6 separate regions of the Homo sapiens genome follow, and regions 1, 2, 4, 5 and 6 are each reported to be linked to region 3. The links are microRNA targets in miRTarBase. Many come from high-throughput screens and were not tested one by one. Region 3 holds a microRNA gene; each other region holds the end of a gene's coding sequence.
Evidence for each region. Region 3 holds the annotated microRNA hsa-miR-513a-3p (UAAAUUUCACCUUUCUGAGAAGG, at 2,366-2,388, opposite strand). A microRNA usually pairs through its seed, bases 2 to 8, with sites in the 3' UTR of a target mRNA and lowers its output. Matches are read on the target gene's strand: a 7mer-m8 pairs with bases 2 to 8, a 7mer-A1 pairs with bases 2 to 7 and ends in A, and an 8mer does both.

Region 1 (4,075 bases), not on the chromosome of region 3:
GGATTATGATAAATTGACTCAATAATACATATTCTCTCTCTATATATCTAGATTCCTAGAAGTAGCCCCATACTCCATTGAAAGTTTTTGGACACATATGAGCGTGGATATTTTGTTGTTTTGTTTTTCCTTTTTTTTTTTTTTTTTTTTAATAAACAGTGCCATGAAAGAACATGGATATTTTGGACGTTAGTTAAGCACTTCTTCCGGTAAAATGCGCAACTCATCATTGTCTAATTTGTATTTTGTAGGAAGGGAGTGAACAGGCACCACTAATGAGTGAAGATGAACTGATTAACATAATAGATGGTGTTTTGAGAGATGATGACAAGAACAATGATGGATACATTGACTATGCTGAATTTGCAAAATCACTGCAGTAGATGTTATTTGGCCATCTCCTGGTTATATACAAATGTGACCCGTGATAATGTGATTGAACACTTTAGTAATGCAAAATAACTCATTTCCAACTACTGCTGCAGCATTTTGGTAAAAACCTGTAGCGATTCGTTACACTGGGGTGAGAAGAGATAAGAGAAATGAAAGAGAAGAGAAATGGGACATCTAATAGTCCCTAAGTGCTATTAAATACCTTATTGGACAAGGGCTTGCTTCAAGCATCTGTATTAGTCTGTATTAATGCTGCTGATAAAGACGTACCCGAGACTGGGAAGAAAAAGAGGTTTACTTGGACTTACAGTTCCACATGGCTGGGGAGGCCTCAGAATCATGGCGGGAGGTGAAAGGCACTTCTTACATGGCAGCAAGAGAAAATGAGGAAGAAGCAAAAGTGGAAACCCCTGATAAGCCATCAGATCTTGTGAAACTTATTCACTATCACAAGAATAGCATGGGAAAGACTGGCCCCCATGATTCAATTACCTCCCCTTGGGTCTCTCCCACAACACGTGGGAATTCTGGTAGATACAATTTCAAGTTGAGATTTGGGTGGGGACATAGCCAAACCATATCATTCTACCCCTGGCCCCTCCAAATCTCATGTCCTCACTATTCAAAACCAATCATGCCTTCCTAACAGTCCCCCAAAGTCTTAACTCTTTTCAGCATTAACGCAAAAATCCACAGTCCAAAGTCTCATCTGAGACAAGGCAAGTCCCTTCCACCTATGAGCCTGTAAAATCAAAAGCAAGCTAGTTACTTCCTAGATACCAACAGGGGTACAGGTATTGATTAAAGACGGCTGTTCCAAATGGGAGAAATTGGCCAAAATAAAGGGGTTACAGGGCCCATGCAAGTCCGAAATCCAGCAGGGCTGTCAAATTTTAAAGTTCCAGAATAATCTCCTTTGACTCCAGGTCTCACATCCAGGTCATACTGATGCAAGAAGTGGGTTCCCATGGTCTTGGGCAGCTCTGCCCCTGTGGCTTTGTAGGGTACAGCCTCCCTCCTGGCTGCTTTCACGGCTGTTGTTCAGTGCCTGCGGCTTTTCCAGGTGCACGGTGCAAGCTGTTGGTGGATCTACCATTCTGGGGTCTGGAGGACGGTGGCCCTCTTCTCACAGCTCCACTAGGCAGTGCCCCAGTAGGGACTCTGTGTGGGGGCTCCCACACCACATTTCCCTTCTGCACTGCCCTAGCAGAGGTTCTCTCCCCTGCCGCTGAGAGGGCCTCTCCCCTGCAGCAAACGTTTGCCTGGGCATTGAGGCATTTCCATACATCTTCTGAAAACTAGGCGGAGGTTTCCAAATCTCAATTCTTGACTTCTGTGCACCTGCAGGCTTAACAGCACATAGAAGCTGCCAAGGCTTGGGGCTTCCACTCTGAAGCCACAGCCCGAGCTGTATGTTGGCCCCTTTCAGCCATGGCTGGAGTGGCTGGGACACAAGACACCAAGTCCCTAGGCTGCACACACATGTCAGGGGCTGCCCTGACATGGCCTGGAGACATTTTCCCCATGGTGTTGGGGATTAACATTAGGCTCCTTGCTACTTATGCAAATTTCTGCAGCTGGCTTGAATTTCTCCCCAGAAAATGGGTTTTTCTTTTCTATTGCATAGTCAGGCTGCAAATTTCCAAACTTTTATGCTTTGCTTCCCTTATTTATAAGGGAATGCCTTTAAAAGCACCCAAGTCACCTGTTGAACACTTTGCTGCTTAGAAATTTCTTCCGCTAGTTAACCTAAATCATCTCTCTCAAGTTCAAAGTTCCACAAATCCCTATGGAAGGGGCAAAATGCTGCCAGTCTCTTTGCTAAAACATAACAAGAGTCACCTTTACTCCAGTTCCCAACAAGTTCCTCATCTTCATCTGAGGCCACCTCAGCCTGGACTTTGTTGTCCATATTGCTATCAGCATTTGGGGCAAAGCCATTCAACAAGTCTGTAGGAAGTTCCAAACTTTCCCACATTTTCCTGTTTTCTTCTGAGCCCTCCAAACTGTTCCAGCCTCTGCCTGTTACCCAGTTCCAAAGTCACTTCCACATTTTGGGTATTTCTTCAGCAGGTCCCAATCTACTGGTACCAATTTACTGTATTAGTCCGTTTTCACGCTGCTGATAAAGACATACCCGAGACTGGGAAGAAAAAGTGGTTTAATTGGACTTAAAGTTCCACATGGCTGGGGAGGCCTCAGAATCATGGTGGGAGGCAAAAGACACTTCTTACATTGTGGCAAGAAAAAATGAGGAAGAAGCAAAAGCAGAAACCCCTGATAAACTGATCAGATCTCATGAGACTTATTCACTGTCACGAGAATAGCACGGGAAAGACTGGCCCCCATGATTCAATTACCTCCCCCTGGGTCTGTCCCACAACACGTGGGAATTCTGGGAGATACAATTCAAGTTGAGATTTGTGGGGGGACACAACCAAACCATATCAGCATCCTTTCAAGAATATTAGATAATTGGAGCTGAGTACTCAGGAACTTGACTGTAGTAGAATACTGCTAGTTTCTTAATTTTAATTCACATCACCTGAAAAGTAAAACAACAGGCTTTGCCAAGTGGATGCTTTTCAGTAACAGTGAAGTGGAGTGAATACCAAATGTTTGCCCTGGTGGTTCCTATCTCTTCAGGCAAACATGGTCAGTATTCTGTAAAGTTCCCCTGGCCTAAATGATTACTTGCTCTGGGCAAGTGGATATTTATTAGGCTATTTCAAAGCCACAGCATAAGAATGTCAGCCTAGCCACAGAGTCTGAGATTCTGAGTTCAGCCTAGCCACAGAGTCTAAGATTCTGTATCCTCTGACATTTTGGAAATGATACACTACTGGCTTAAGTGATGACTCTTTCAGATTTTCAGTATTTTATACAACTACTGCCACATCCTTATACTTTATTGCTTTTCTGTCTTCTTCAACCTGGGAGAGACCCTGAATTTGAGTGTGTTCTCTAATCAATAGTGGTTTAGCTTTCTTTTCTATTTCACTCGTTTCTAGGGTTTTTTATTTGCAGTTTAGGAACTATTAGGAATGTCAGGACTTTATCAGCAGGGGTAAAACTACCACCTGGCCTAGCCTAAGTAGGAAGTGAAAAGATAATTCACCAAACAATGATTAATCAGATAGAAGTTCTAGTCAAGAGGGATATTGTTGAAGTTACCTCTTTTAGCCTAGATACATGGATTCTTTTCAAATCAGGAAAGATTAGAAAAGGAACCCAAAAAACCCTTTAACAGTGTGAATCTTTATAGTATTTGAAAATGAGAAGAAGCAGCAGATTGTAATTTGGTTTATTGGATGTGATGGACGTTCTGTAATAGAAAACCTGAAACGATGATTGAATGGGAAAAAGAGACTACAAAATTTGTCGTAGGATGTATACAGACTTATTTTCTTTATTACAGTATTATAAGAAAACATATGTATTTGTAAAAATGGTTTCCTGTGTCAAGTATTTGTGCAGTCAGAGCTGACTTGTAAACTATTCTTGTAATAGCTCATTATTTTGAAAGATTTATATATGATGAATTCTGGATATATGACCAATAAAACTGATGAAGCAAAACCTCGAGCAGTTGATTTTGTTCACATCAGCTTCTCCTGCCACATGCAGGGTGTGTTTACTACAAATGTTCACATGTGCCTGCTCTTATCATAGTTCCTGTGAC
Region 2 (4,084 bases), not on the chromosome of region 3:
AATTCCAGTTACTAAGGAGGCTGAGGCAAGATAATCGATTGAGCCTGGGTGGCGGAGGTTGCAGTGAGGCGAGAGAGCACCACTGTACTCCAGCCTGGGTGACACAGGGAGACTCCATCTCAAAAAAAAAAATTGCAAACTTTAAATATTGACATTTTTTATGAATAAGAAAGCTTTTTATTTTACAGGTCTTTGTGGGAAGAAACAGAAAGAAATCACAAAAGCAATTAAGAGAGCTCAAATAATGGGTAAGAAAGAATACCTCAACAACTGAATTGAGCTAGCTGAAATTTTGCTCATTATGTTTTGTCAAGAACTTTAATTATCTCTTTACAGGGTTTATGCCAGTTACATACAAGGATCCTGCATATCTCAAGGACCCTAAAGTTTGTAACATCAGATATCGGGAATAAATTCTATCACGTTACCACTAATAAACTTATTTTACAGTAAGTGGTTGTATGATGCCAATACTGACTCAAACCAACCTTTGGATAGAAAAGTGTTTGAGGAGTGAGGTAAAGAATGACACTTCCCCTTCATACCAATGTCCATTAAGCAGATTGCTTATTTAAAATGTTAACACTCATCACATTTTATCTATGTTGAATAAAAGTGGTTCTGTGTGATTGTCATTTATATCTGATCCCCAAATAGCTCATACAATAATCCATTCAATAGAATGGAATTAAAACTGTTCAGAATGATTTTCCAACTAGCAAATATAAGTATGCCTGGTTAAGATATCTTCCCTTTGTAGAAATGTTACATTGGGATGGATAGTGGTGCTGTCACAGAAGGACAAAATATTCCTAGACGAGTCTACCCTCAAACCAGTAGTGTCTTTTACATGAAGAGATGATTTACACCTAATAGACATTGAATATGATAGACATACATGTATATATGTATCAGTTCTGAGTTCCACTGGCCTATCCCAAATACACTGGATTACCAGGCTTGTACTGTATTCAAAATGATAGATTTGCTAAATTTCATGCAAAGGACTCTAAACTAGGGGAGAGATTACTGTTTGTGTTGTGTTATAGTTGTGTAATAATTAAGGCTGCCAGATTTAGCAAGTACAAATGTAGGACAAATTTAAATTTTAGATGATGTTTTGCAAATTTATTGCATGATATCCAGCATTTTATCTGGCAACTCTAGCCATAATGTACTTCTAAAAAAGTATCACTTAAGGAGAATTTTAATGACTCAGATAAATTTTCATATAAATTTCTTTCCATATTTTGAAAATAAGGCTATTCTTGCTTTTCCATTTTATTTTTTAATAGACATGGTCTCAATACGTTGCCCAGGCTGGTCTCTAACTCCTAACTTCAATCAATCCTCCTGACTTGTCTTCCCTAAGTGCTGGGATTACAGGTGTGAGCCACTGTGCCTGGTCTCACTTTTCCAATTCTAAAGAATGTGTCTGTGTAAGCCTTCCCCTCAACAACTTAGTGAAAGGTGAAAAAAAGGTTTGGAAATAAAAGCATCTGATGTTTGAAAAAGTACTTTGTGAAGTAAATGCACTAAGAGTTATCTGTGTATTACTGCAAACAGGTGAACATAGTAAAAACAAATGAACTTACTGCAAGTAGCTCAACATAGTAAAAACAATAGAAATGTTTGGCTTTACCCATCAGCCAAATAAAAAAATCTCCTTGTAAGGTTAAAAGGATCAAAATGTAGGAGACCGTGAATATTCACCAAAACCCTTCATCTTTTCAATTTCTTCATCTGTTTCTGGGCTGCTCATTTTGGATGCTTTATCTTGGTTACTACTACCAGTATCTGCTTTAGATCGTTTGTCTTGTGTATCTAACAACCGAGATCTCTTGAATTGCCATCTGTCATCTAAGTCTAAGGCTTTATGCTTAATGATTTGTGGTGTACTAGCTGGACTAGCTTCAGGAATGTCAGTGTGTTCTACCATTAAGGTCAGATTGTCTACTACATCGAGATGGTGGTTGTAGTTACAGCTACTTTTAGAAACATGTCTATTTTTTAAAGACATAACACATGAATGAAGAAATTCAGAATTTGGAAAAAAGGTCCGTAATGCCTGACAAAGAAAAATGTTCTCCTGAGGGTCTTTTTGGATGTTCTTCTCTCCTAAACAAAATAGAATAACAGTTCAACATATAACATTTCTTCTACAAAGCTTTTATAATTAACTATTTGTAAGTAAAATTAAGTCAAAAAGATTTTAACAGTTGTATTATCTAAAGTGAGGATAACATACATAATTCTGAATTCTAATTTATATGCCACAGTATTCTAAGACAAAATTAAAGTTGTGTTCTTTCATGTCAGCAATATAGCTACCATAGTATTATGTTCTTTAAAAGCACAGAAAGGGCCGAGCGCAGTGGCTCACACCTATAATCCCAGCACTTTGGGAGGCTGAGGCGGGTGGATCACTTGAGGTCAGAAGTTCAAGACCAGCCTGGCCAACATGGTGAAACCCTGTCTCTATTAAAAATACAAAAAAAATTAGCCAGGCATGGTGGCAGGCACCTGGAATCCCAGCGTTTCAGGAGGCTGAGGCAGGAGAATCGCTTGACCCCAGGAGGCAGAGGTTGCAGTAAGCTGAGATCACACCTTTGCACTCCAACCTAGGCGACAGAGCGAGACTCCGTCTCAAAAATAAATAAATAAATAAAAATTTTTAGCACAGAAAGTAGAGATGTGTTGTTTACTTACTTGCTGCCTGAATCTGTGCTCCTCTCCTTTTCTCAATTTCTCGTTTTAATCTGTTTACATCCTTTACTAGTTTATCTACTGCTTGTTCACTGTCTTCCACTTTTTTGCATATACTCTGCAAAATAAAGTAATTTAAGGGCATAGGTAATATTTCAAGCTGTGTACTAATACAGTCTAGATTCACAAATAATATAAAATCATTGGTGGTATATAATACCCAAAACTATTTGCCTTTTATATAAATTTTATTTATTTTCTGGAGGATGTCAGTAACAAGCACTTGTAGGTTATAAATAAGCCTTATAGGTTGTAAAATGCTTTTTCACATGTAACTTCTCATTTATACAGCTTTTATCATGCCAGTTAGTTCGCTGAAAATATACAGAAATAAACTGAAATATTAACTCATGGGCCAGCTGCGGTGGCTCACGCCTGTAATCCCAGCACTTTGGGAGGCTGAGGTGGGTAGACTACCTGAGCTCAGGAGTTCGAGACCAGCCTGGGCAACATGGTGAAACCCTGTCTCTACTAAAAATATAAAAAATTATCCAGGTGTGGTGATGCATGCCTGTAGTCCCAGCTACTCAGGAGACTGAGGCAGGTGAATCGCTTGAACCCAGGAAGCAGAGGTTGCAGTGAGCCAAAATTGCACCACTGCACTCCAGCCTGGGCGACAGAGTGAGACCCTGTCTCAAACAAAAACAAACAAAAAAACTTTGAAACAAAAAAAATACAGATGCAGAGTTACTGCATAAATTTAACACTAAGAAACTCACAGTAAGTGAAACAAAGTGACTATCTTACTATTACGAAAGGATACTATTGAAGATTTTTTCCTGTAAGAGAAACTACTTTTGAAAAGCAGATCACTTCTGTGTGTCTTTAGTTTTAAAAGTATGAATACCAGTAACTTTTGATGCCATAATTCCATTTGGGAATATATCTGAATAACAACAAAAATATAAGATGATGTTTCTTAGTATAACATAAAACAACTGGGGGAGGGGAGAACAACTAATTAGTAAAAAAAGCAACTAATTTCCAACTGTAGGGTAATAGTTGTTTTGCCAGTTTTAGTGGACACTTTTTAGGATGTCTGCCAAGCCTACTTTTTACAAACTTTTTTTGCCCTGACATAAGAGTTTGCCAGTTACCCCTGTACCCACCTTTCACCAGAGCTGACCCAAACAGAACCAATGAGATTCTTGCCTGGCAATCTGGAGGTATTACATAGCCAATTGGCAGATCTTATGCTCTAGAAGAGATCTAAATGCAGGAGCTGTGGGTTGGCTGTTTTCTGGCCTGCCAGTGGATGAAGAAACAAAAAGGTCTGGAAGGATAGCAATGTGCAGACACAGAAAGTTCTATGGCATTC
Region 3 (4,089 bases):
TTACTTTTTAAGTGTGTTTACTTGCACTCTTAGCATACAGATATTTTTGGTTTTTAATTGATAACTGTAACAAACTGCCACAAATTTAGTTGTTTACACAACACAAATATATTAGAGTCTAAAGGTCAGAAATCTAAATTAGGTTTATCTCAGCTAAAATGAAGGCATTGGCAGGGCTTTGTTCCTTCTGTTGGCTCCAGAGGAGAATCTACTTGATTGTCTTTAGAAGATCATTCTTTGGCTCATGGACTTTACCTCCACCTCTATTGAATACTGTAGCATTTTCCAATGTTTCTCTTATTCTAACCACCTTCCTTCTACTTATAAGAACCCTTGTGATTATGTTGGACTCACCTAGATAATCTAGGATAATCCCAATCTCAAAATATTTAGTCATATCTGCAAATTTCCTTCTACCATAAAATGTGATGTTTTTGAGTTCAGGGGTTGCTCTGTAAACATCTTTTGGAGGGGGACTGTTATTCTGCATACCACAGAGATCCTATAATTTGTATTTAGAGTTTCACCTAAATATGTTATGTTTATATTATTTTATGTTTTAATTAGGTGGATTTAATCATTGTATAATATATACATATATCCAAACATCATGTTGTACACCTTAAATATATACAAAAGTTATGTCAGTTAAACCTTAATAAATTGGTAGAAACACGGATGAATGATACAAAAAAGTATTTCACTGAAAGAAAAACCACAAATAACAGTGAATAGAGTACTCTTTTGAGAAATCATAAAAGAGATATGATACTAACTAAATTCTCTTCTTTCGTTTTAGGATATGACTTAAAATTATATAAGTACACATGCATTCACTATAATACAGTTTTAGAAATTATATACTAAAAAGTGTTATCACTTTGGAAATTTCTATGTACATACAGCATTTCCAACTGACAGAATTTTTTTACTGTTCAGAATGTTCCCCCGCCCCCAATGAAAAAGATGCTATGTAATCTATTAGAGCAATTGTTTTAATATTGAAAAAGATACTTCAACTGATTGTTTTTTTACTTCCAGACATTAATGGTCTTAAACATATTCATCCATTCTGAACGTAACAAAACAAACTAAAATCCTGCCTGTAACCATATAGTAATTGTTTTTTATACTTTCTCCCTTTTGATGTATATGCTATAACCTCTATTTCCATTGGAATCAAATTTGTATTAATAACTTACTATTTATAACATTTTTAACACATTTCTGCAATATAAGTAGCTTATTTATAACCTACTTCTCAAAAATGCATACTAGTTTCATGCTGCAGATGGCCTCACACCATCCGGCACTTGTCTTACTCTTTTGCCCTCTCTCTCTTTTTTTGTGTGTTTGTGTGTGTGTGTATTTCCCTCTATCTCTCTCCATTAGGTTAAGAGTTAAGAAGTGTCAACACAAGAAAATGGGACCAGGCGTGGTGGCTCACGCCTGTGATCTCAGCCATTTGGGAGGCTTAGGTGGGTGGATCAGGAGGTCAGCAGTTCGAGACCAGCCTCATCAACATGGTGAAACCCCATCTCTACTAAAAATACAAAAAGTAGCCAGGTGTGTTGGGGCACACCTGTAATCCCAACTACTCGGGAGGCTGAGGAAGGAGAATCCCTTGAACCTGGGAGATAGATAGAGGTTGCAGTGAGCCCAGATCACACCGCTGCACTCCAGCCTGGGCGAAAGAGCAAGACTCTGTCACACACACACACACACAAAGAAAATGGGGAGAGAAGACTAGGAGATATCTCTTGAGTATCAATTCCATCATACCCTTCCATTGTTCATACATATTCTTAAAAAACGGGGAAAAAAGATAATGAAAAAGAGTGAAATATTCTTGGGTGGACTATGCTTAATCCTTCATAAATTGGTGACTTAAGGCTTTGAAAGGTATTTTAAAAGTCAATGAGAAAATGTTTTAGTCTTTGACAGAAAATGGACGCTGTGGATCAGCAATGAAGGGACCTGAGAGGCAGGAGAGTCTTTTGGGAGCGCTAAAGGAGAATCCTTGCAAATGATGACTAGTTGATAAGTGAAAAAAGTTTAGAGAATTTAGGAATCTGGAGTAAAGCATTCCAGCTGACGAAGAATGGCTGTGGCCTCTATCCAATGTATTTCCTATTTGAGCCAAGCCTCATTTGGCAAAAATAAATTCTTAAGGAACCTAAGTGCATGCGTTTTCTCAGGAGTCCACAATTCCTATGTACAGTCGTCTAGAAGGCACAAAAAGTTCCTTGAAGTGTAGCCCAGCACTGAGGAGTGGGTGCACAGGATGCAAAACAGGCATCACCATGCTCGCAGCTACACCCCCATCCTCAGGGACACCACATATGCAGTGCATGCTGTACATTACCCTTCTCAGAAAGGTGAAATTTATATTTTAGTTCACATAAATGACACCTCCCTGTGAAAGGCACTGTACGCTGAATGGCTGAATGTGGCATCCCAGACCAAATGCTCCCTTTTCATGCTGTTTTTATTCAAGTCCCTATAGGTGTATGCCTTCGCATGGCCACCAAGATTTATGCCAAGGGACAATGCAACTTGTAACCCCCAGCACTCCCCTTTTCATCCTGCCCCGAGTGAGATTTTGACATGCAGATTTTTGTTTTGTTTTTGTTTTCAGATGAAGTCTGGCTCTGTCACCCAGTCTGGCATGCATTGGCGTGATCTCAGCTCACTGCAACCTCCGCTTCCTGGGTTCAAGCACTTCTCCTGCCTCAGCCTCCCGAGTAGCTTAGGTTAAAGGCACACACCACCTCGAATGGCTAATTAACACGCAGATTTTTAGACTGATCAAGAATAGAGCTTTTCACTTCATCTCTTCCCCAAAGGCGAGTAATCCTTGTCTGAATTATCCCATTAGTTTTCACGTTAATTTGCTTGTCTCATTAAAAATCCTCAAAATCAGGCCAGGCACAGTGGCTCATGCCTGTTATCCCAGCACTTTGGTAGGCCAAGGCTGGTAGATCATCTGAGGTCAGGAGTTTGAGACCAGCCTGGACAACGTGGTGAAACTCCATCTCAACTACAAATACAAAAAATCAGCCGGGTGTGGTGGTGGGTGACTGTAACCCCAGCTAATCTGGATGCTGAGGCAGGAGAATCATTTGAACCCAGGAGACAGAGGTTGCAGTGAGCCGAGGTTGTGCCGTTGTGCTCCAGCCTGGGCAACAAAAGTGAAAATCCATCTAAAAAAAAAAAAAAAAAATCTTCAGAGTCGGCCGGGCATGGTGGCTCATGCCTGTAATCCCAGTACTTTGGGTGGTCCAGGTGTGCATATCACTTAAGGCCAGGAGTTTGAGACCACCCTGGCCAACATGGTCAAACACCATCTCTACTAATAATACAAACTTAGCGGGGTGTGGTGGCTCGCGCCTGTAATCACAGCTACTCAGGAGGATCACTTGAACCTGGGAGGCAGAGGTTGCAGTGAGCGGAGATAGTGCCAATATACTCCAGCCCGGGTTACAGAGTGAGACCCTGTCTCAAAAAAAAAACAACAAACAAACAAAAAAACCCCAAAAACTTTTAAAATTACAGTTAAGTAGGCAGGGCCAACCACTCACCAAAGCTCTCTATGGTCCTAAAACTCCAGCTGTGCTGCACAGACCCTAATTCCAATGGAAAAACCACAGAATACAACCACCTGGATCCAAACTACTAGAGAAGAGTCAGACAGTACCAGGTTGGAGAGAGCAGAAATTTAATTTCTTCTTCAGGCTATGCAGTGGGAAGAACCCATAGAAATTAATACGAGAGACAGACAAGACAGATAATGGGCTGGAAGACAAGAAATGCTATTTAATTTTTCTTAGTTCCATGGTTCTTTATAGTACATTTATTTGGGCTCAGTCTCTCTCTCTCGCTGTGTGATTAACAATTAATAGTGCTAGGATTTTTTAGCTTTAATATTTACTGTTTGCATTAATATATTTTCCATCCTTTTACCCAACTTTCACGTAGGTCTTCATATTTAAAATGGTTTCGTTTTAGAAAGTGTACAGCTGTTTCTTATTTTTACATAATTTGACAGTGTCTCTCTTAATTGAAGCATTTATATCATTTATTATAATT
Region 4 (4,073 bases), not on the chromosome of region 3:
TTCCAAAGGTTTATATGAATAATAAAGAGTGCAGTCGCGTGCACTGGTTCTGGCGGGCTCTCAGTAGGGAGGGGTTAGCAAACAGCATTATCCAACCCTGGGGCACCAGAAAACCCCAGTAGCTCCCCCCTTCAGGGAATACTGGCCCAGAAACAATTGCCCTACGGATTCCTGAGAGAGGCGGGGAAAGCGAAGGGGTGGTGCCCTTGACTCCCTTGAAGTTCAAAGTTCTTCTTTACTCTTAAGAGAAGAGCCCTTTCTGCTCTCAGCCCACTCGAGAAATTAGCCCAAGGTAGTTTCTCCCCTTCTGGTTGAGAACTGGCTCTAGGTATTCCCAACTCTGTTCACCTTTCAGACACCTGGTTTGCACCTTTTGCTCCCCCAGAACAGGGCTCCCCAATCTTTCCATCTGGGACAACTAGAGCCAGGGAGTTTTCTCTCAGAGGTGCTTGGCAGGGGTTTCGAGTCTTCTTACAAGGGGCCCTTGCATCGCCATTCCTCAGCCACCTAAGAGTCTAAGTGACAAAGAAACCCCAAACTCAAGGCTACTCCTAAACCCATTTCTCATTTCGAGTGCCCTTGATTCCTCCTGCACCCCAAAGCCCATGGTGGAAGGGGGAGGGGCCCAGAGTGCTCTCTCAGCCCACACCACTTAATACCCTTGTAAACTCCCACGTGCACTATAAACTTGGATTTTTACAACCAGCATTCCTCCTTAGCTCCGGGAAACTTTGAACTCGGCCTCAGGTTTATTTACTGGGGCGGGGGGGTGGGGTGGGCGCGGCGGGGAGGAAAGGGGCTGGGGTGCTGGGAGCTGAGAAAGGCTGGAGAAAAGAGGAAAAATGTGGGGCAACGGGCTGAGGAGGTGGGGGTCTGAGTGTGTTGGGAGAGCCAAGACCCTCCACTACAGGTTTGTTTACTATTTAGGGCGGAAGTGGTTTCTAATACAGGCCAGACTGGGTCGTTAAGGTCGAAATGAAACTGGGTTTAGAAACGTGAGGGGGTGCTTTATGGCAGCGTCTAGACGAGGATCTTTTGTTCCCGGGCAGTGCTGCGGCTAGAGGGGATTACCCCAAGAGGTTGAGCCCAGAGTGCCCCTGACCTGCAAGGGGGGTTGGACACCTTGGGAGACGGAAGGTGGGTTTGTTTGGGGGCCAAAAAACCCTTTTTCCTCCTTTTTAGAGGGTCACCAAGGACTGGCAGATTCCTGGCTTGGGTCACAGAAGCCTTTGTTTTTCTTTCATGATGACCTTCTCCTCTCATCCACCAGAACTCTCTTTTGGAGCTGAGGACATTTCTGGGCTCCACATTGCAGAGAAAGTGTTACCTGCGGGTTTTAAATATTTTTCTCCAAAATCAGGCATTTGGAGGCTAATATTTTGCTTTATAAATAGGTTCACCTTATAGAGTTTCCTCTATCCTAATTTCACAGGAAACATCACCAGCAGGCTAATATTTCCTAATGTGGCTAGTGGATAAACATCATACCTAGAGAAGTGTCACACACACATACACACACAAAAATGTACAGAGGCCCCTCAGTTGCATTCCTGCCCACACTCAACAAACACTGCCAATGGTTACACACCACAGAGACACAAGCTCTAGATGTGTATGTGGTCAGGTTTACTCCATGCAACAGACAAAAGCATATAAATAATATTCCTTCTTATGTGCACCCATAGGCACACCGAGTTAAATAAAACGTTTGTGTGTGGGCACATGAGGGAATTGTGGGCTGCATATACACCCTAGTTTGCAAATCTTGTCTCACGACCCGACCCACGTTTACAAATTAGAAATTTAGATACCTAAGCTGCAGGGATTCCTACCATCAAAAATGACAGAACCTAGATTTGATAGTCATGATGCTTTTTCCTTTCATCCAACAGAATTGTATTGACAAAAATATTTTCTTTGAATTATACAAAGACAGAAAGAGGAGGGAAAGATGAGATGAGTTGTCCTGAACCTCTGCCCCCAAATAACGAATTTGAAACAGAGACCAACGAAGTGCCCTCACTGAAAGCACTGCAAGGGCCATGATTATCTTTATACAGAAGAAACATGCAGCAAATATAGATGGGTATGGTGACTGTCCCCGCAGGTCATCTCCATCCCCAGTGCCAACCCCTACAAAACAAACCTCTGGGGCTTTCTACTGTGGGACACCCAATGTATAAACATCAGGGTGGCCCCAGTATAGGCGTCTTGTTGTGTCTGGAAGAGCCTGGCCATTTGTGCCAGAGGGAAAGCAGCCAGGCCCCACCTTCCCACCCCCAGGAGCTGTGGAGAGGAGAGGGAGGGGGCTGGTTTCTCCTTCTGTCCCCTCCTTCCTTAAAAACAGTGTATAAAAATTCCAATACAGATTTCTCCTAGAGAAAAAAAAAAAAAAGCCCTAACCTCCACACTACACATTTAACTGCGACAGACGGAGACATCTGGCAGAAGGGCGGTGGAGCCAAAAAAATTCCTATAAATTTAAATTCGATGATGGTTACAATTAACTCCACAACAAACGTGTACTTAAACAGAAAGCCGTTGCTGGGCGTTTGGACACAGCTCGAGCTGCACGTGAGAAAGGAGAGCTTCAGAGTAGCTATGGAATGTCCTCAGCTTGAGAATGTGAGGAGACTACGGCCATACTCTTGGCCCTGCCAGCGGAGAGGAGCTCCAGGCCGGCTAGCACCGGCCTATCTCACCTCTGCCTGCCTGTCCTCACCCGCTGGGCTCTGCCTGCCTGCCTCCTCCTCCTCCGCCGCTGCCATGGGAGCATGGAGGATTTTAAGAGGAGAGGGGTTAATAAAAGGGTCAAATAAAATCATAATATTGAACAGAATGAAATTTATCTTTATTTGCCACCAAAAAAATTTCACAGCAATCCCTCTGGGAAGGGAGCAGGGTGGGGAGTGCACATGTACACACGCACTCACGCAGAGGAGTAGAGATGCGTGATTTGAATCTCACTGGGGGCGTCCCCCCCTTTCCCTCCAGGTGGAAAGAAACGCTTGGGAAATTTATTTACAAAAATCCAGGCCCCAGCACGGGGGAGGTGCCCAATCCCATCTCCCTACTGCCTCCACCACCCCAATCTTCAATTTTCTTAAAAAAAAAAAAAAAAGAGGTAACGACTGCATAGACTATAGCTATAAATCCATGAAGTGGGGCACTGCTTGGAAAAAGATGTGGAAACCTCAATGCACCGATTAAGAAATTTCAAAGGAAGGTTCTACACATTCAGGGGGAGAACAACTAGGCTCGGGCGGGGCCTTGGCGAAGACGGAGGTAGGACACGGACTTTGCACACCTAACACCAGGTTGAAGGTACAGAAATTTCACAGCAAGGCAGGATCACATTTAGCTGCAAGGTGGGGCGGGGTAGAGGGGGGAGCTCGAGAAGTTTCCGCTGGCAGACATGCTGTCTTAGCGGATCTTTTCACATGGGCAAGGGAAGGCTTTTAGTTCGAGGATTGTTCGGCTCAGGCGCTCACTACTGTCGCCCCTCCCCCACCTAATCCGAGCAGCAAGACATTGTCGCCGAGGTGTGTTTTCTTTTAAATCAAAGTCTTGGCCTCGGCGCCAACGGTGTTCACTCGCCGTGCATCAGACACTTCCCTTCACCCCCTTTCCAGGCCCGGTCCCTGTCCCACAGCGAGAGTCAGATAGAGGGTCCAGGAGGTTCCGGAATGGAGTGCCGGCCACAGCGGTGGGGGCCAGCCCTGGCCACAGTCCAGTTTTCCACCGGCGGAAAGAAGACGAGTTAGAAAATAAAAAATAAAAATAAAATAAAATAATTTTCCCCTCCCCCCGCCCCCAAAAGGGCCCGGTCTGCAGGTTACAGCAGAGGATTTCCCGAGAAATACTGCAGCCGGTCTCTGCTCAGTTTCTTTTCTTTCATCCTTCTGTTCTGAAACCAAATTTTCACTTGTCGGTCCGTCAGGTTCAGCATCCGGGACAGCTGCAGCCGCTTCTCTTTGTTGATATACACGTTGAAGAAAAACTCTCGCTCCAGTTCCCGGATCTGGAATTTCGAATAAGGGCAGCGCTTCTTGCGGGTGCGGGGGGCGTCTGGA
Region 5 (4,089 bases), not on the chromosome of region 3:
TTTCCAGCGTACGGTTCTGTGGCATCAATTCCGTTCACATTGTTATGCAACTATCACCCCCATCCACCTTCAGAACGATTTGCGTCTTCCCCAGCTGAAATTCTATACCTGTTAAACACCAACTCCCCTTTTTCCTCTTCCCTCCGGCCCTCGGCAACCATCCTTCTACTTTCTGTCTCTATGACTTTGTGTCTTGTTTTTTTTTTTCTTTATCTCCAGCTTCCCAAATGCTGCCTGCTATATAGTAGGTGTTTAGTAAGTATTTGTTGAGTGCACGCGTGGGAAGGTGCCAGGGTGGGCGGGAGGGCTGGGAGCGGATGGCGGAGATGTTCAGACACAGCTGGGGTCGCGGGCGTCTGACTGCGAGCTGTCCTCTCTCCCGCAGGCCTGCTGCTCTTGGTGAGCCTGGAGGTGTTCCGGCATTCCGTGAGGGCCCTGCTGCAGAGAGTCAGCCCGGAGCCTCCCCCGGCCCCACGCCTCACCTACGAGTACTCCTGGTCCCTGGGCTGCGGCGTGGGGGCCGGCCTGATCCTGCTGTTGGGGGCCGGCTGCTTTCTGCTGCTCACACTGCCTTCCTGGCCCTGGGGGTCCCTCTGTCCCAAGCGGGGGCACCGGGCCACCTAGAGCCACGCGTGAGACTTCTCTAAGCAACCACCGAGCCCTTTGACCTTCTCCATTGTACCCCCAAGATCTTTTTGCCCCATCTCCTAGAGAAACTGTGTTCTCCCTGCTCGGGGGCCCATGTTTTTTTACACGCCTGCCTCCTGTCCCCTTATCCTTTCTCCCTCTGTAAATACGTTTTTCTCTGTGGCTGTATGTGGGTTGCTTGGGGGTGGGATGGGAAGAGGCTCTTTGCAAACGAGGGTCCCCAGAGAAGACTGGCGGGGACCTGATGGGGTAGCTGGGGTGTGGGGTTGGGGGATGAGGTCAGGGGGTCTTGGGTGGGAGTTGGGGGCCCCTTCATTTCCCAGGTCTGGATCGATTCACTTGCCGGGAGAGACTTTTTACAACTCATCTGCAGCTCCGGGTGCGGTTGGGGGAGATAGCGAAGGGTCTGGCCTCGCTGTGATCTGATTTGGGATTAAAGGTTTGGAAATTTAACAACTTTGCTTTGGAGTCTATTTGTGATGTGATCGTGCATTCTGGGGTAAAGAAAAGTGACCCCATATTCCCTCCAGAAACATACCCTCCAGAAACACTTTTAAGCCCAGAAGTCACATGAAAACGAACCCATACACAATGGTTGAGAGTGTGGAAAACACAATATATTTTTTATTTTTATTTTTATTTTGAGACGGAGTCTTGCTCTGTCTCCCAGGCTGGAGTGTAGTGCTGCAATCTTGGCTCACCGCAACCTCCGCCTCCTGGGCTCAAGTGATTCTCCTGCCTCAGCCTCGCAAGTAGCTGCGTTTACAGGCACGAGCCACCATGCCCAGCTAATTTTTGTATTTTTTTTTTTTTTTTAGAAGAGACGGGGTTTTACCATGTTAACCAGGCTGGTCTCGAACTCCTGATCTCAAGTGATCCACCTGTCTCAGCCTCCCAAAGTGCTGGGATTACAGGCGTGAGCCACCGTACCCCACCCAGATTTCCCCTTTACACATGACTCCTGTCATACGTGATTAGGATTTACCCCCAATGACCTTATTTTAACTTGATTATCTCTGTAAAGACCGTATCTCCAAATGAGGTCACATTCTTAGGTACTGGGGGTTAGGGTCCAACATATATATATATATATACATTTTGTAGGGGAGAACATTCAACCATTAACAGTGTATATATTCTAAATTGTGTTTTCTGGTCGGGTGTGGCGGCTCACGCCTGTAATCCCAGCACTTTGGGATGCCAAGGCGGGTGGATCACCTGAGGTCAGGAGTTCAAGACCAGCCTGGCCAACACGGTGAACCCCCGTCTCTACTAAAAATACAAAAATTAGCTGGGTGTGGTGGCAGGCACCTGTAATCCCAGCTACTCGGGAGGCTGAGTCAGGAGAATTGCTTGAACCTGGGAGTTGGAGGTTGCAGTGAGCCGGGATCTCGCCACTGCACTCCAGCCTGGGTGACAGAGCAAGACTCCGTCTCAAAAAAAAAAAAAAAAAAAAAAAAAATCAAAAAGGTGGGGGGAAGGGGGATTGGTTCAGGAAAGCCTTCCGAAGAAGATGACGAACTTGAGTCTTCAAGGTGAGTAAGAATCAGAGAAAGTGGAGAACGTCACGGGCGTTCCAGCTGGGTGGGAGAGCCTGGACAGAAACAAGAGGAAAAACATGATGAACCTGTGAGTGAGGAAATGTGAACGCTGGTGTTCAGAGTGAGACACAGGAAACGTGAGAGGGTTGGGGTGGGCTGTCTTATGAACAAGGTGGAGAGACTCAGATGCTCAACAGAACAGCTTGGCCTTTACCCTGAGGGTACTGAGGAGCCATGGGAGCTTGCTGAGCAGAGACACACTGGCATCAGGTCAAGGGGTTGAAACAAGGTTTCTTATTCTTGAAGTCACTAAATTGCAGACCCGGAAGACAGACTAGTGGTTGCCAGGTGTTAAGAAAAGGGTGAGTCTTGGCCCCACGCGACGGCTCATGCCTGTAACTCCAGCACCTTGGGAGGTCGAGGCGGGTGGATCACCTGAGGTCAGGAGTTCGAGATCTGCCTGGCCAACATGGTGAAACCCTGTCTCTACTAAAAACAAACAAACAAACAAAACAAATCAACAACAACAAAACATACAAAAATTAGCTGGGTGTGGTGGCTCACATCTGTAATCCCAGCACCTTCGGAAATGCCTGTTCTAATTTAGGTCCATGGGCACAGGCCCTAGGGTAGAGCCCTTGCCAGAGACCCTGCCCTTCTCTACCCAGCAGTTCTCTGCCCCCCTCCCATATCAAAATGCTTTTTCTGCATCTATTGAGATGATCATGTGATTTTATTTTTATTTTTATTTTGCAGTCTCACTCTGTCGCCCAGGCTGGAGGGCAGTGGTGCGATCTCGGCTCACGGCAACCTCCGCCTCCCGGGTTCAAGCAATTCTTGTGCCTCAGCCACCCCAGTACCTGGGATTACAGGTGTGCGCCACCAGACCCAGCTAATTTTTGTATTTTTAGCACAGATGGGGTGTCACCACGTTGGCCTGGCTGGTCTTGAACGCCTGACCTCAAGTGATCGTCCCACCTCCGCCTCCCAAAGTGCTGGGGTTACAGGCGTGAGCCACCGCGCCCAGCTGACCATGCGATTTTTGTTTCTAATTCTGCATTCTTCCATTCAACAAGCAGAAGTGCCCCGCAGTGCCTGGGCACCTGGGAGCCAGGCTGGTGTGAAAGCCCAGCTCCCCGACCTATGGCTGGGGCAACAGCTTCACCTCTCTCTGTCTTCGTTCCTTCATCCCTAAAGACGGTGCGTGAGCTCAATCCTGTACCTACTCCCAGGAGTCACCGTCGGGAGTAAACGCCATCATGAGCCCTGCAAAGCTCCCAGGAGACCGCCTGGCACGTGGTCGCAACTCGATCTGCCTTTGCTGTTAGTTTTTCTCAAGTGGCACTTACAGAGTAAACAGGGACCCCCGACGACGAGCTGACAGCCTGCTGATGGAAACAGATACTAATCACATCACTGAAGTAATGAGCGTGCAATTATAAACCAAGTTAAGTGCTAGGAGACAAGAGAGTCCACAATTTTTTTTTTGTTGTTTGACTTTGTGCCCAGCCAGGTCAGGGAAGCCTCAAGAGACATCTGCCATGGGGGTGGCGGAGATAGTTGGTCTTGGGGGAATGGCCCTTCCTTCCTTCCTTCCTTCCTTCCTTCCTTCCTTCCTTCCTTCCTTCCTTCCTTCCTTCCTTCTTTTCTTTCTTCCTCTTTCTTTCTTTCTTCTCTCTCTCTCTCTCTTTCTTTCTTTCCTTCTTTCTTTTTCTTTTTTTTTTTTTGAGCCGAAGTCTCGCTCTGTCACCCAGGCTGGAGCTCGGTGGTGCAATCTCGGCTCACTGCAAGCTCCACCTCCCAGGTTCACGCCATTCTCCTGCCTCAGCCTCCCGAGTAGCTGGGACTACAGGCGCCCGCCACCAAGCCTGGCTAATTTTTTTGTATTTTTTTTTAGTAC
Region 6 (4,089 bases), not on the chromosome of region 3:
TATGGGGCAAAGGACTTCTGTTTTTTTTTTTTAACAAGTTTTATAAAAATGATTTGATTGTAAATTATATGCATTTAACTTTGATTAGACTGTCAAAACAAAATAAACAAAAATAGAATCAGGGGATCCTGAAAAAGTAACTTGGAAGAATATACACCAAGATGTTAATTGTGATTTTTGCTGACTCATGAGATTACGAGTGATTTTTATTTTCTTTTTCAAATTTTCTGTGAACTTGGATTACATTTGTAATCGAGAGGGGAAAAATAAAAATAAATGTCATTTCCTGTATAAGAAGATGAAGATGAATATGTTAATGTATTCATAAAGTCACCATTGATGTTCAGAAGGGGACCATCTCTCAGAGTGAATTTCGTCTAGCAGAGAAAATTCATTTTGATTGAGACAGTGAGGAGATAGAAATGTATGAGATTCTTAGAAAAATTATGTAGCTGTTAGAGTGCCTGTGTATAGAAATAAATATTGTCTTCATTTAATCTTCATTTCAGTAACTCCTTTGTATAATTTAAAAAACTTTTTAGTTCAGTAGCATAGTAACATTTAATGTATATTGTAGTATTATATATAATACTGTCATTTAAAGAAATACTTGAAAGCTTTAAAAAATTTAAATTTACTGCATCTACTGCCTTTATATTAAACTTTCCCTTTTTCTTTTAACAGAGAAACAGGAAAAGGAAATTGACATCTATGCTAACCTGTCTGATGAAAAGGCTTTCGTGTTTTCAGTCGCCTTGGCAGAAATAAATAGAAAAATTATCAATCAAAGACTTATTCTCTGATACTTGTTTGCAAAATCTGCTGAAACTTCTGTCAGGATAACATCAGCAAATTCTCAAACAGTTATGGACTCTCAGGAGCATTCTGACTGCATCAATAAGGGCCATCGATTGTTTCTTTCTCGCCTGTCGTTTAGCCTGTGCCACACTTCGGGAGCAAAGCTGTGTAGGCTTGGACTGTTCTGGGATTTCCTTGTTTACCAAGGAGTATTGTCAGTGTTTTGTGTTTGGGATATAAGTAAGTGTATTTGCCAACAACAAAAAAAAACCAACAAAAATGCTGGATGGATGTTAAAGGATAAAAAGTGATGGGGTATGGGGTAGGTATGAAAACTAGGGTAATAAGATGCTTGATTGTTTTCAGGTTTGCCACCAGAGATGCAATATTTTAAATACTGTCAGAAAGAGTGATTTTTAAAAATATATATTTCAGATTTTCAGTGCTAACAGATTGCATATATACAGTTCATTTACTTTTATTAAATTGGCAATCGATATTTTATTGAATGGGGAATTAAGAATATAAACTGTAAATTTTGTCTTAAATTGATTTTTTTTCTTGGCCTTTATTTTTATTACTTAAGGTATGAGTTATATTTTAGGAGATACTTTCTAGACAGTTTGAAGTTTGGGTGCTATATGAAGAAAAACATTTAATGATATACTCAGATATAAACACCTTGTTTTCTTGAATGTAATTTATTTATTAGCTAAAAAAAAAAAACAAACTGCTCTCAAGATGGTGCCTGTTAACCTAAACATGAAATATATTTATTACATGCAAAATATTTCTTAGCCACTTTTAAGCAGTAATGTTTTATCTGAATGGATATTTGTTTCTATATCCTGATAATTATTTAAATTGTTACTTTCAATCTGGAAGAAAAAATAAACCTTAATATTGAAACTAAGTAGATTAAATAGTGTGATAAAAGTTTTTTGTTCTGGTGAAGTTTGTGAAATATATTTAAATTCTTAATTTTTCTAGTGTTAAGTCATAATCGTTTATAGTTGATTTATATTAAATGCTTTTGCATTTTGGCATATCAATTTAATGATTAACATATTCAAACTTGGTAATCACTCCCCTTATTTTCAGTCGCTCTTCCCCCAATCTGTTTAGAAATCCTTTTAAAGCCTTCTTACAGAAGATAGTCATCAGTTAGATTTAGCCCCCTTTTAAGAGAATCTCCCTTTCAATTTTAGCCGTAACATTATCAATTTCAGACTTCATCCTGCATCTCCCATCACCTCCTCAAAGAAAAAAGGTCAACATTTTTTCCTACTTTATTTAAATGGTAACCAGCAGAGGGAGCTTAAGAGGTACTCTAGATAGGATAAAGAATTTTCCTAAGGATTCCTTTTCCTTTAATCCCTGTATCTATCTGCAGGTACTACTGCAACTATTTTGTATGCATTTTATTTATTTATTTAGGAGACAGAGTCTTGCTCGGTCGCCCAGGCTGGAGTGCAGTGGCACTGTCTCAGCTCACTGCAACCTCTGCCTCCTGGGTTCAAGTGATTCTTATGCCTCAGCCTCCTGAGTAGCTGTGACTAGAGGCGTGCGCCACCACGCCTGGCTGTTTTTTTTTTTGTATTTTTTAGTACAGATGGGGTCTCAGCATGTTGGCCAGGCTGGTCTCAAATTCCTGGCCTTAGGTGATCTGCCCGCCTTGGCCTCCCAAAGTGCTGGGATTACAGGCATGAGCCACTGCACTCAGCCTTGTGTGCGTTTTAGAGTCTTAACTAGTAGTTTCCCCAATAATGTAATGTGATTTTATCTTTGAAACATACTGTAAGGAAACTTTTGATTTTAAGTAAAAAAGCTTAAAAATGATTAATATCTAAAAATGCTTGTATACATATATATGTCCTCAGAAAAAGCAAGAACAGCTTGTGGAATAAGCACGTCTTTAAGGAATTATCGATGTCAGAGTCTATCCATTTAAAGCTGAAGACCATTACAGGAAAGTCATGTTAAAATATTCATTGGATATGGTAAAGGAGGTACTGGTGGCTGGGCTGGAGCTTGCCGTATAGAAAAGTAATTACTTCAGATCTCATAATGTTAAATTATTGGCTTATTTAAAAATTTCCGTGGCAGAGAGGCAAATTAGGTTTCCTCTGTGACATAACCTATTTAACCAATTTTTCAAAAAATTGTACTCTATGAGCTTTCTTGTTATAAAGCTAAAAAATTTAATTTGTCTAGGCATGTTGTAATGGTCCCAGAAAATATTACTTTGTCACTGGTGTCAGAGAAACCTCTGTCATCAGCAGATGTCCTAAGAGTATAATTATAGTTCTTTACTTAATCCAAAATTTGTTCTGCTCTGATATCTATAAATGATATGATTATTCAAAATACCTTGAAATGATTCCACAATTAGATTAGGTCTGTTGAAGATAACTTATTCTTAAATATGAGTAAGATTAAATAAAAGTAGTTTGAGAGTTGTTACTCCCTGCCTCAACTCCATGGTATTCCAAAATGTTTTTGTGGGCACTTTAATACTTGTAGTTTGATTTTGTTTGTTAGTTTTAGAAATGAACATTTCTTAGATTTTCATGGGTATTTTTTGGCTGTATTTAAATGTAAATGATATAAAAGTAAGGGAAATTGTGCAAATTATTTCTTGTGTAGTAATCAGTGGAAGTGATCAAACAGCTTGAAGCAGTTTATGATGAGAAAATTTAAAATTGCAAATGACCTGAAAATTTAGCCAGTCTATTCTTATTTCTTTAAATTTCAGAAATACTTAAGAAAAAAAAAAAAAAGGTCAGTATGACCTCTGAGTTGCTTCCTAAAAGTAATCAGATAGTGTTCTCCCTCAGATAAGATTTCAAATTGAAAAGTATTTGACTTCTTTAACTCTAGTAATTGCACTTGATTCTCTAATTCTGATCATTAAAATGACTTGGCAATATTTAATTTTGGCTTGCCTTTCAATCTGCATGTTTGTCTTAAATTTAGAAAAATTAAGCTCTTTACTTACTTTTATATAAAGTATTAATTGGCCAGGCATGGTGGCTTACACCTGTAATCCCAACACTTTGGGAGGCCAAGGCAGGAGAGTTGTTTGAAGCCAGGAGTTTGAGACCAGCCTGGGCAACATGATGAGACCGCGTCTCTACAAAAAGTAAAATTAGCTGGGTGTGGTGCTTCCAGCTACTAGGCAGCTGAGGCTAAAGGATCACTTGAGCCCAGGAGTTCGAGGCTGCAGTGAGTGATGATCTTGCCACTGCACTCCAGCCTGGGAGGCAGAGCAAGAAACACCCTGTGTGAAAA

Region 1: the mRNA of MCFD2 is a reported target of hsa-miR-513a-3p. Seed matches in the 3' UTR shown: 7mer-m8 at 2,121-2,127.
Region 2: the mRNA of MRPS18C is a reported target of hsa-miR-513a-3p. Seed matches in the 3' UTR shown: 7mer-A1 at 1,098-1,104 and 7mer-A1 at 1,125-1,131.
Region 4: the mRNA of HOXC11 is a reported target of hsa-miR-513a-3p. Seed matches in the 3' UTR shown: 7mer-m8 at 3,331-3,337, 7mer-m8 at 3,212-3,218, 7mer-m8 at 2,868-2,874 and 7mer-A1 at 2,477-2,483.
Region 5: miRTarBase lists CACNG6 as a target of hsa-miR-513a-3p. Seed matches in the 3' UTR shown: 8mer at 1,093-1,100.
Region 6: the mRNA of C16orf87 is a reported target of hsa-miR-513a-3p. Seed matches in the 3' UTR shown: 7mer-A1 at 2,996-3,002, 7mer-A1 at 3,491-3,497, 7mer-A1 at 3,516-3,522 and 7mer-A1 at 3,767-3,773.

Annotation. Positions count from the first base shown.
Region 1 is chr2:46,901,771-46,905,845 of GRCh38, reverse strand. MCFD2 (multiple coagulation factor deficiency 2, ER cargo receptor complex subunit) reads left to right here. Exons shown (of 4, transcript NM_139279.6): 4 at 252-3,972. The coding sequence ends at 383. The region is part of intron 1 of MCFD2-AS1 (MCFD2 antisense RNA 1); the gene reads right to left. Among named protein-coding and RNA genes, the nearest start is that of MCFD2-AS1, 4.5 kb to the right of the region's middle.
Region 2 is chr4:83,460,785-83,464,868 of GRCh38, forward strand. MRPS18C (mitochondrial ribosomal protein S18C) reads left to right here. Exons shown (of 6, transcript NM_016067.4): 5 at 189-248; 6 at 337-1,514. The coding sequence ends at 413. ABRAXAS1 (abraxas 1, BRCA1 A complex subunit) reads right to left here. Exons shown (of 9, transcript NM_139076.3): 8 at 2,710-2,824; 9 at 1-2,118. The coding sequence ends at 1,685. Among named protein-coding and RNA genes, the nearest start is that of MRPS18C, 6.8 kb to the left of the region's middle.
Region 3 is chrX:147,211,133-147,215,221 of GRCh38, forward strand. MIR513A1 (microRNA 513a-1) reads right to left here and starts at 2,459; the gene lies at 2,331-2,459. All of the region lies in intron 1 of LOC105373347 (periphilin-1), which reads left to right.
Region 4 is chr12:53,975,176-53,979,248 of GRCh38, reverse strand. It overlaps HOXC11 (homeobox C11), which reads right to left. Exons shown (of 2, transcript NM_014212.4): 2 at 1,606-4,068. The coding sequence ends at 3,836. Among named protein-coding and RNA genes, the nearest start is that of HOTAIR, 2.3 kb to the right of the region's middle. RefSeq lists enhancers at 1-333, 3,823-3,972.
Region 5 is chr19:54,011,566-54,015,654 of GRCh38, forward strand. It overlaps CACNG6 (calcium voltage-gated channel auxiliary subunit gamma 6), which reads left to right. Exons shown (of 4, transcript NM_145814.2): 4 at 386-1,101. The coding sequence ends at 624. Among named protein-coding and RNA genes, the nearest start is that of CACNG6, 22 kb to the left of the region's middle.
Region 6 is chr16:46,799,666-46,803,754 of GRCh38, reverse strand. It overlaps C16orf87 (chromosome 16 open reading frame 87), which reads left to right. Exons shown (of 4, transcript NM_001001436.4): 4 at 685-4,089. The coding sequence ends at 803. Among named protein-coding and RNA genes, the nearest start is that of C16orf87, 29 kb to the left of the region's middle.